Linked DNA regions of Homo sapiens: region 1 is linked to region 2. Evidence: fine-mapped expression QTL. A gene starts in region 2. The other region holds a variant in brackets. All regions are shown on one strand. Distances are from middle to middle.

Region 1 (5,223 bases), 71 kb before region 2:
ACAGAGAAGGGAATCATTTCTAGGGCAGGTCACTAACTGCAGAATCAGAAGGCTGAGGCCAGCTCCCTGATTAGCTGTGCTGTCTTGAGGCATTCATCTTCCCGAGACTCACCTTCTCCCCTGCCCACGGAAACGATATGACCCACAACAGCCCCACGCACATGCACCGGGTTCGCAGAGATTACACAGCTAATACATGTGAGTAGGTTCTGGAAACCATGAAGCCCCGCACAGATGTAAGGACTTAGGACTAAAGAGGAGTCTGTGCTAGGAAATGACAGCTGGGTAGTACACCCAACACAGACCCTTTGCCACCAGGGAAGGAGCTGGGCATTGCTGGAGGAGCGGGGGAGGGCAGGTGGGAACACTGGTGGAGGGGTCAGGTCAGGCCTGGGGCCCCAAAGGCAAGGCAGCAGCATGGCCAATCTCCACGGTGTGGTCAAGGAAGTTTCTAGCCCCGGAGCTAGCCATTATACTGCCTGTGCTGAATAACCCTGTCATTAAGCCTGTGCTTAATAACCCTTGACAGCCATAGCTCCCAGCCCTGAGGGGAGGATGGGATCTCCACACCCAGGCTCAGCCCTCCCTTCCCTTCCCTTCCATTCCCTACCTCCTTCCATCCCCACAGGCCCCTTTCTGTGACAGTCAGGGTCCTTTGAGCTGCTGCGTCTTAATGACAGCTCTCCCAAGAACCCATTAAGCTGGGTATTCCTAGGGAGAGCTGGAGCAGGGACTCAGGCCCAGGCAGAGGTCAGAGCCCAAGCCCTGTCCCCGAAGGAAATGTGTCCCATGCTAACTACTCCATAGCTGAGGCCTGGAGGGAAGTCAGGGACCCTGGGACTGGTTATCCTGGCCTTGACTCATTACTGTTCCGGAGACCTAAACGCACCCTGAGCCACCAGACGTGGGTGTTAACACCTGAGGTCAACCCCCTGACGCTTCCGGCTGCTCTGGAGGAAGCTGGTCCTCCCTCCCACCTCCTGTTTTCCGTGCCAGCCTGGTACAGAGTCAAGGGGCTTGGCTGGGCTTGGCTGGGCTCAGAAACGTGGCAGTCAGGAGCCAGCCTGCGGGCAGCGGGGTGCTGGGAGCACTGCAGGGTCCACCCTGACTGGGGCACAGAATCCAGAAGCCCACTCGGCCCTGGCAGTGCCATCCTAGGCTCTGAGGTGGTAAACTGAGCTGGGCAGTGGGAAGGTCCTAAAGGGCAAGACAGGCAAGGAGGGGCTGCTTGCTTTGCCTGCTCTCCTGGATCCTTTGCCACCTGGGTGACAGGGCCTGGTGTCACTGTAACCACTCCCCCCCCACCAAAAGAAGCTCCAGCCAGACACCATTTAATCAGCCCCTTTCATTGGCCAGCCTCTAAATGGGGCTGGGGATTGGGAGGACCCAATACCTAGGTTTCACCCTGCAGGTGCTCAACACAGAGTGTGACAAGTATAACACCAGCAGTGGTTACAAGGTACCCCTGGAGCTGAAAAAGCAATAGATTCTCTCTAGGGAAGTCGGGAAATTGTCCTGGAAGAGAAACTATTTGCATTGGACTCTGAAGGATGGGCAGGCTCTCTCCAGGCAGGGAAAGCAGGAAGGAGCTCCAGACACAGGGGACTGCATGTGTGAACAGCAAGAAAGAGTGGTAGTATAGGGACAACAGGCTCTCGCTGTGGCTGGAGCAAAGACTCCGGCACTCCAGGTCATGGGAGCTGCACCTGCCGAGGTGGAAGCTGCATCCCCAGGCCCTGTCCATCTCCCAGGGCGCTTCCAGCCTGACCCTGGGGGTCAAGCTCTGTGCCTGGGTGCTTCCCTGGAGAAGGGGTTCAGATGTCAGGGCTCCTGCGTGACCCCAGGCCTCTCTCCTCCTCTCAGTCTTCCCTCAGTGCAGCTGAGAACCCAGCAGCCACCTCCCTAGCCCAGACCCATGCCAAAGCCCAAGAGATCTGAGGAGCTGAATGTAAGAAATGAGGAGAGACCAGCTCAAGGGGGTCATGGGTAGAGGGAGAGATGAGAAAAACAGACCCAAAACAGAGCTGGGGAACTGCCGACAAGCTTCCCAAAGCCCCAGAAACGCCCCAGGGCAGCAGGAGACAAATGCTTTCAGGCCTGAAAATCTCCACGGCCTCAGACTTCCCAGGTGCCTCTTCTGCCCTCAGTCTTCCTTCCTGCTCAGGTGAAAACATCAGCCTCAGTAAAACGCTTCAAGTTCCCAAGCAAGGATTCCCTGGGACAGTGAACTCCTCCAAACCTAAAGTGCAATCATCTACCACATTTTCTTTTAAACCTGTTGCCACCAGAATGGGAGCTTCTTGAGGACAGGGTCTGTGTCTTTTCTGCTTTTAGCCGCAAACCTAGCACAGGGCATGGCATCCATGGCATGGACTAGGCACTTAGTAAATGTGAATGAATGAATGAGTGGATTGATGGATGACAGGTAAATAATCAAAGACAGAATCCCCTATAACCAATTTCTGATTTATCTGACACTGAAAACAAGGCTCACCCGAAGTCCAATTGGAAAACATACCAGATCTATCTGAGGGGTTACTAAAGTGTTTTTATCCCAGAGGGGGATGGGCATGAGGGAGGCACAGGTCTGAGCCTGCCCGGAAACCCTGGTGATAGGGAAGGGGAAGAGTGGGGCAGAGCCAATGTGGCAATCCCCCTGTGACACGTCTAA[C/T]GCCACCTCCCAGCCTGCCACTCTGACTAACCAGCACGTCGGCAGCTGAGAAATGTGTAAACAAGATGGAAAACCGCAACAGTCCTCCCCTGCCCGTGGCCCCCAGAGCACCCTCCAGCTTCCTCGCATAATCCACGTGCAACCAGAAACTCTCGAAGGGTAGCAGATGAAAGGAACACTTGAGGAAGAGGGTGAGAGACATGATGGCCCCTGTCCAGGCGTGCGCACCTGTCCAGGGGTGGCAGTCGCGTCTCCTGTCACAAAATGTCCTGCACATCAGTCTGGCTGGGCGTCGCCCGCTGGTGCGGTTGAGCCAACCAATGCTTTCAGCATATCCTGCTGTCTCAGTTTCTTCCTCTAAATCTGTATGCATTCATTCATTCATTCATTCAGCATGTGTTCCCTGAGCATCTACTATGTGCTAGGTACTGGCAAGATACCATGGAAGATTCAGAGAATATGTAAAATCTAGGCCTTCAGTTTTGTGCACTCCATAGATGGAACAGGAGCAGGGGAGACTGCTTTCCCACACTCCAGACAAAGCCTGACACTCACTCACTCACTGATGTCCACAAGAAGGGGCTAAACATAGAGCCAAGGTCAGCCCCCTCACCTTCATCCCATCTCCACCCTGACATCACTCACGATCACATCTCCAGTCTCCAGAGAGGAGGGTCTTGCCAGGCTGCTGGGAGAACCTGTCCGGACACGTAGGAGTCACTGGTGGTCTTAAAGAGAATAATAGCTACAGCGGCAGTATCACATCTCTATCCAAATGCAACAAGGGCCCCATGTTGTGCTTTGAGAAGCACTTTCACATCCAAAATCTCCCTTCAGTCTAATACAACTCTCTGAGACATTGTAATCCTCATTCTACAGATGAAGAAATTGAGGCTCAGCCGGGTGTGGTGGCTCATGCCTGTAATCCCAGCACTTTGGGAGGCCTAGGTGGGCGGATCACCTGAGGTCAGAAGTTCAAGACCAGCCTGGCCAACATGGTGAAACCCCATCTCTACTAAAGATATAAACATTAGCCGAGCGCAGTAGCTCACGCCTGTAATCCCAGCGACTCGGGAAGCTGAGGCATGAGAATCGCTTGAACCCAGGAGGCAGAGGTTGCAGTAAGCCGAGATCACACCACTGCACTCCAGCCTGGGCAATAGAGTGAGACTCGGTCTCAAAAAAAAAGAAAGAAAGAAAGAAATTGAGGCTCAAAGAGGTTCATGACTTGAAAAGGGTCATTCAGCCAAGGGCAAAGGGAAAACCAGTAGCTATAATTAACTTAGACTTTCAAGAAGACTAAACTAAAGTTTCATACCCAATGCTGCTCAGGGAAAAAAAAACCCAAATTACCAGGAGACCATTAACGATAGAAAATTGATTTAAAGAGAGAATATTATAAGTGGATCAGGCCTAGGACTAATCCTATCTGTGGGAGGAGACAAGAGAAATTTCAGGCTGAGAGTGAGCTCTTCAGAATCACAGACCCTAAGGAAAAACCTTAGAGGTCTTCTCGGCGAGTGGGTTCCCCAAGCGTACTTTGACCTCAGAGCCTTTAGCTCCACTGAAATCAAATGCAGAATCCTCGTATGGGACACAGAGAGAAAAACAGAGCTGCAGTGTTTGAAAGGACTGTCCCCCACCCCCGCCACTTCTGCCCTGCCTCCCTCTCCTCTGCTGCGCCGCTGCGGGGCTCGGTCGAATCCCCCAGGGGTGCTCAGAGCCCTTATCTGACCCTGGCCCTCGTCTGCCACAGAAACCTTCACAATCCAGCTTTTGCTCACACATCTGTTTCTAGAAGCTACGGTTGCTGAAAACAATCTTTCCTTTGCCAGGAGAAAAGACTTTCTGTAACTTCCCCCGTTCCTCCTAGAACTGTCTTTTGCCTTTCTCAGACGGCCACACACACTTGAAGCTTTCATGCTTCCACTGGTCCTTGCTTCTCTGAACTGCGTGTTCCACCCTCTCTTCCGAGAGAGTTCACACAGGTCACACGACATCACCTCCGGTCCCAACTGCCCTGGTCACTGTCCCCAGATGCGCTTAGTCCACAGAGTCCCCTGCTGAAGCCAAGCCCCGGGGCCCATGAAATCATAAAAGTCGCTCTTTGCTCAGTTCCTATTACATACATGACAGGCCCTCTATGAAGCTCCTTCCCATTAACAATAAATAATTTTTGACTATGAGTATCTACTATGTCATGAACTTCCCAAGTTCTATTTTAATATTGTTATTAATAACTAATAAAAATAATAGAATATACTCCATGGGCAAAAGAGCTTTACCTCTGGTTCACTGCTAGGTCTCCAGGGCCCAGAAAGTTGCCTTACTAAATGAGTAAACTATTATTGTTGTTGTTATTATTATTACAGTTAACAATTACTGTACTCTTGGCTGGGTGCAGTGGCTCACACCTGTAATCCCGCTTTGGGAGGCCGAAAAGGGCAGATCACATGAGGTCAGGAGTTCAAGACCAGCCTGGCCAACATGGTGAAAGTACAAAAAATTAGCTGGGCGGTGGTGGCAGACGCCTGTAATCCCAGCTACTCTGG
Region 2 (5,223 bases):
CCCTTTCCTCTCTTCTCCACAGTCTCCTTGCTTCTTCTTTCCTTTTTCTTCCTCTGAGTGGGACTGAGCACCCTCTCCTTAATTGCATTCTCATTAAACAAGCCCTTAATAAATACACACCAGGGGAAACAGGGTTGTGCAATAGAGCACCCTCACAAGTGATAATTAAACACAGATCACAGCAATTAAGTAAATGGGGGAACAAGGAAGGAGTGGGCAGGACAGAGATATTACCAGTTACATGCTTAGGAAGAGATTGGAAAGCACATAAACCTCAATGGCAATAATATAGCCTTGGAAACTGCTTCTCAGTTTAAGAAAAGGGTATTTTGTTAGGTTATCAAAAATCACTTTGGTCTCAGTCTGTGAGACTGGGTTTGATACGGGGAGAGGGGAAGAGGACTCCTGGGAGTTCACTGCTCTGTACCCAGTCTCCGAAGCTGTGAAAAGAGCCGCTCTAGGCCCCTCAAGTCTTTATCCTTCCACACTCATGCCCCAGAGCCTCACTTATTCTTCAGCCCTAAGCACAATCACTATTTACCTTCCCCCTCACCAGACTTGAGTTAAGTGGGAAGCAGCGTGGTGTGACAGAGCCCAAGAAACTTAGATTCTGTCCCACTTGGCCATCAATTGGCCATGAGCCCCTAGACAAGTCACCATCCCTCTCTGGACCATGACTTCCTCATCCCTAGGAGAGTTCTGTGCTCTGCTTCCCAGAGTTGCTGCCAACTCTGATGTTCCCAGGGAACACCTCCAGTTGGCTGTCCAGTCGTCTCTGTATCTCCCCCACTGGACTGAGAAGCAAGGATGTCATCTATGTCCCAAGCTCAGACCAATGCCCCTGTGAGGGCTCAGTCAGTATTACCTGGTCAAGGGCCAAAGGGACTTTGGTTGGAGTCCCTCTGCAGACCAGAGGGGCAGGGGACAGAGCAGATGAGGCCAGTCCTGGGGCCTGCAGGTCTCCCACCTACAAGTCACTCTGCTTTCTCCTGGGCTCCCAAAGGGTAGCTCAGAAATTCATCTAAACCTATATCAATAGGCCTTAGCCCCTACCTGGTCTATACAGCTGAACAGTCCTTGGAGAAGGTGGGGCTTCCACCTGGAGCAATGTACCAAGACTGTGCCTACAATCCCCCTTACACACGTGCACACACACACACACACACACACACACACATCATTTTCAGGGCCCTCTTGGTTGCCCACAGAGGCCTGGTTCTATGAGTATTCTAACAAACAAGGGACTGGCATCCCACCACCCAGGAAGGTAAGCCAGAGGTGTGAAGTGGGGTAGTTTAATGACTGGCTGAGTTTGAATTCCTCAGTGATCCTTTACCCCTGCCATTGCCACCATGGGGACCTGGGCTGATCTGAGATGGGATGAGGGGAAGTAGCATGGAATGGCGCTGTGCCCACCCTGTGAAAAGGAGCCTCAGGCGTCACTAAGGCCCACTTCATTAAGGTCACTGTGAAACCAGCATGACATCTGTGCCAAGGTACAGGAGAAAACAAGGGTGTCTTCCATCTAGCGGTACAGAGGTAAATAAACATCCCAAGTACAAGAAATACTCTCTCCCCTCTTCACCACCAGGCACCAACCTGCTAGATCTGCACACAGTTTACATTCGCAGAAACAGTAGCCACTTCCCTTATAGGGTTCTGTCTCCCTGTTTTCAGCAGAAATACCTACACCGTGTGTCTTACCCAATGCAGGGAGCTGCCAAAAGCCAAATCTGACCAATATAAACAGGAAGAGATGCCGTTGCCAGAGATGGAGTCGGCTTACATTAAAGTCTGGCTATGATTTATGAGGAGATTACATCCTGGATGAATAAATATCATTCCCTAATCTCTTGGAGTTTGACACTCAAAACTCTCATGTGCATATTAATAGATATTAATAATGCTTCTTCCTCCGTGTCCTCTGGACATGTCTTCTCTGTCTCCATATTCACTTCAAAAATGAAGAGCCAGGAGCAGGTCAAACAGGTCTTCCCTACGGAATCTCTTTGTAGGAAGAGAGACAAGGCCGTTCCTAAAGGGCCTTGAATGATCCCGCAAGCCCCTCCAGCCCCTTCCAGCTTTCAGGTGCTGCTGTAGGGAAGGCAGTGGCTCCTGAGGGAGGTACAGGGCAGAGGAGCAAAGCAGGAAAAGGGCCCAGGAAGAAGGGGACTCCCCCACCCCCAACTGGTGCATGCCTGGTGCCTGGGAAACAAGCAAACGGCTCTGGGCCGGGATGGAAACCACCATTCCAACAGTCACACGTGCAACCCACCTGGTATCCCCTGCACTCAAGGCACGGACCCCCCTCCTCCAGCATCCTGAACCTCTGAACTCTGGAGACCCGCGCTGCAGCCCCAAGATCCAGCTCCAAATACCTGGAGCCGAAGGTGCCAAGGACAGCAAAAAAACTAATCCTGAGACTGGCGGGCTGATGGGGTAGAGAGGGACGCACACGGTCCCCAGGGAGCACAGCCTATGAACCAGGCAGGAACCAGGCAGGAAGCCGGCGGCCACCATCCTCATTCCGTGCCGCACTCCAAAGCCCACCCCATCCAAGGCATCTTCCTTCTCGAGTGTCCCCTTCTTTGGGGGTGGGGGGAGGCAAGAGAAGAGACCAAGCTGGGGCTGCCTTACCCAAAAGCCCAGTGCCCAGCCATCTCGCCGGGGCTTTGCCTCCGTCCCCAGCCCCGGGCATAGTCCTGTTCTCTCCGGAGCGCGCGGGGGTCGCGGGGATGGGATACTGGGCACAGCCGCGCTCTCCGCCCGAGGTCGGCGTTCGGCCACAAAGCTACCCCGGAGCTCTGCGCCGCCGGTCGGGGCTCGGGAAAGTTAGCGGGCAGAGAGCGAGAGGAGGGGGAGGGAGGGAGCGGAGGGGGAGGCGCGCTCGCCCGCTGCTGGGAGCCGGCTGCTGGAGCAACGGCGGGAGGGAAGGAGTAGGAGGAGCCGGAGCAGGAGCGGGAGGAAGACGGAGCGAGCGCAGCGGCGAGCGAGGCTGCGCCTCTGCTCTGGAAGCGCTCCAGCCGCAGGAGGGGCGGTGGCCGCCGCGTAGGCCGGGGAGCCCCCGCCCGCTGCGCACCCTGCCTGCCGCACCCCGCCTCGCGGTCCCGGAGCCCCGGGACCACGCCGTGCCCCCAACTCCCTCTCCAGTGGGGCTGGGCTGCTGCGGCTGGCACTGCAGGGCCGGCCTGCAGCCACCCGCATCATCCCATGCGCTGAGCTGCCAATTAGGAGCATAGTTCGGGGGGAGTAGAGGTGGAGCTTTTCGGTTGCTGGAAGACTGTTTTGCTTTGCTTGGGGGAACACGGGAAGGTTAGCGGCTCCCTCTCCCAGGACCGCCAAGGGACCGCTTTAAAGTCCGCAGCGGACGCTGCCGCAACGGGTGGGCGTGTGCGGGCTTGCCCACTGCAGCTTGCGCCTCCTCGGTGGCGTGCGACATGGCGCGCGTGCAGCCTCGGGACCCGCTCCCGCCACCTTCTGCCCCATCGCTCAGCAACTCCGGCGGTTGTTTTAGGAAGCCCGGAACAGAGCTTTCCCATTGCAAACTGCCCCGGCCCTCCCTTCCCCCACCCCCACGCCACCCCGCCCCACATTTCTCCATGGACCCCTTGGAAATCACCACGCTCCAGGTTAGGGAGCAGGTTGGTCCGCGCCTGGTCTGTGTCCTGCGCCCCATTTCACCCTCCCGCTGCACCCCTGCTTCTCATTTTTCCTACCTAGGCCGTCCCCCTCAGATGCTGCCTTTTCGCCCTCCTCCAACTCTCCTGTTTTCTTCGGAACGGCAGACTCCCTCGGCCTCCCTTTTGGGGTAGGGGTGGAGGAGTCCAGGGTGACAACCAGGTCAGAGGGCTGAGGCGAGGCTGTGAACGAGTAAGCCTTTTCCCAGACAGGCCCAAGTGAAAGAGTTTCACCTGAGCGGTGCTACTTGGGCTGGTGGTTCTGTAAATGAGTCGATCTCCTCCTCAGCACCTTTCCAACCATCCAAGACCCTCCCTGCATCACAGGCCCTCTTTACTGTCTAGGACTGGTCCGGACTGGGAAGCCCGCTCCCACTTCATGGTCTGACTTCTGCTGCAGGCACACCAACGCACCGCCTTCTTAACGAGGGGTCTCTGGGTGGACTTCGGCGTGATCACGGACCCCTTGAGGTTGCAGGCAAAGTGCTGAATGTCTGTTTGCTTTTTCAGGAGAGAGGGTCGCTGCCTTCCCTATAGTGGCACAGAGGCTCTGGCAGCGCCACCATTTATGACTGTATGGCTTTGAGCAAGTTACATGGTCTTCTGGGGGAGCCTCTGCTCCTCACCTATAAAATGGTGAATGCAATGATATTTGCCTCCTAGGCTTATTAAGAGCGATGTTACCCCTGGACCTGGGCAACAGAAGCCTCAGCCCTGATTTCTGGTTTTAAAGGCCCTCATTCTGGCCCTCCTCTGGCCATGCCCCTCACTGGAGAATGAGTCCATGGGACCAAGGGGGCAGGGCAGGTGGGGGCATGCACCTCCTCCCCTTCTAGACTGTACTCCAGGTATCAGGAACTCTGGAATTCCCTATTCCCCAGATCTGTCCTTTCAAGGGCTGGCCATATCAGGTGTGCACTCAAGGGCTAGAGCAGTGGGCAAGGGACAGCTGTATGCAGGTGATGGGGAGTGCATGTAACTTGACACACACCCTAGGCATGCACAAGAGCCCCTCTCACTACAGGACCAGAGAAGAGTGTGTACCAGAGAATGGCCTGAAAATTTCATTTTGGACATGGTTTTCCAGGTTATCATGAAGGAAAAGTAATTAAAGGCAGAGGATAAAACATCAATCTTAACACTTTGTTATCCTGATTAATATTTAGACATATGTATAATTTCCATTTGTACCTTTGCTCCAGGACTTGCAACATCAAAAGTGGACCTAGCTGTAAAGAGGGAATGAGATATTATTGCATGTAAAAGTGCTCAGCAGACAGCTAGGCACAGGATAAACACTCAGTACATTTGAACTTAAAGAGGTCTGTGGGCCCTGAGGCTAAGCCTCCCCATCTGTCTCCAGGTCCGCAGGCTTACCCTGTCCTTCCCCAGGAGGTCCTTGCACTAGATCCGCAGGGCCAGGCATACAAACTGACCACTTTATTTTTACAGCAGGGGTCATGTTTCTCAGAACCCTAGACTGAGGTGAGAGAGGAGGTGAGCCAAAGGGAAGGAAAGTGACCCCTGCCCAGAGCAGGGGGAGGAG

Direction of the effects. Positions count from the first base shown, and alleles are read on the strand shown. Sizes are in standard deviations (SD) of each study's normalised expression.
For the expression in monocytes of the gene that starts at base 2,848 in region 2, allele C in region 1 goes with a higher level than allele T (large effect, 0.82 SD a copy in Schmiedel 2018).

The links. PIP is the estimated chance that this variant, and not a neighbour inherited with it, causes the effect.
Region 1: its variant is the best candidate, but not a certain one, in a credible set for the expression of SCN4B in monocytes (Schmiedel 2018, PIP 0.77).

What each region holds. Positions count from the first base shown.
Region 1 is chr11:118,078,711-118,083,933 of GRCh38, forward strand. All of the region lies in intron 1 of SMIM35 (small integral membrane protein 35), which reads right to left. The region is part of intron 1 of TMPRSS4 (transmembrane serine protease 4); the gene reads left to right. Among named protein-coding and RNA genes, the nearest start is that of TMPRSS4, 4.2 kb to the left of the region's middle. RefSeq lists a silencer at 4,484-4,778. The variant C/T (reference allele first, on the strand shown) is at 2,672.
Region 2 is chr11:118,149,976-118,155,198 of GRCh38, forward strand. It overlaps SCN4B (sodium voltage-gated channel beta subunit 4), which reads right to left and starts at 2,848. Exons shown (of 5, transcript NM_174934.4): 1 at 2,638-2,848. The coding sequence starts at 2,698. RefSeq lists an enhancer at 3,466-3,966.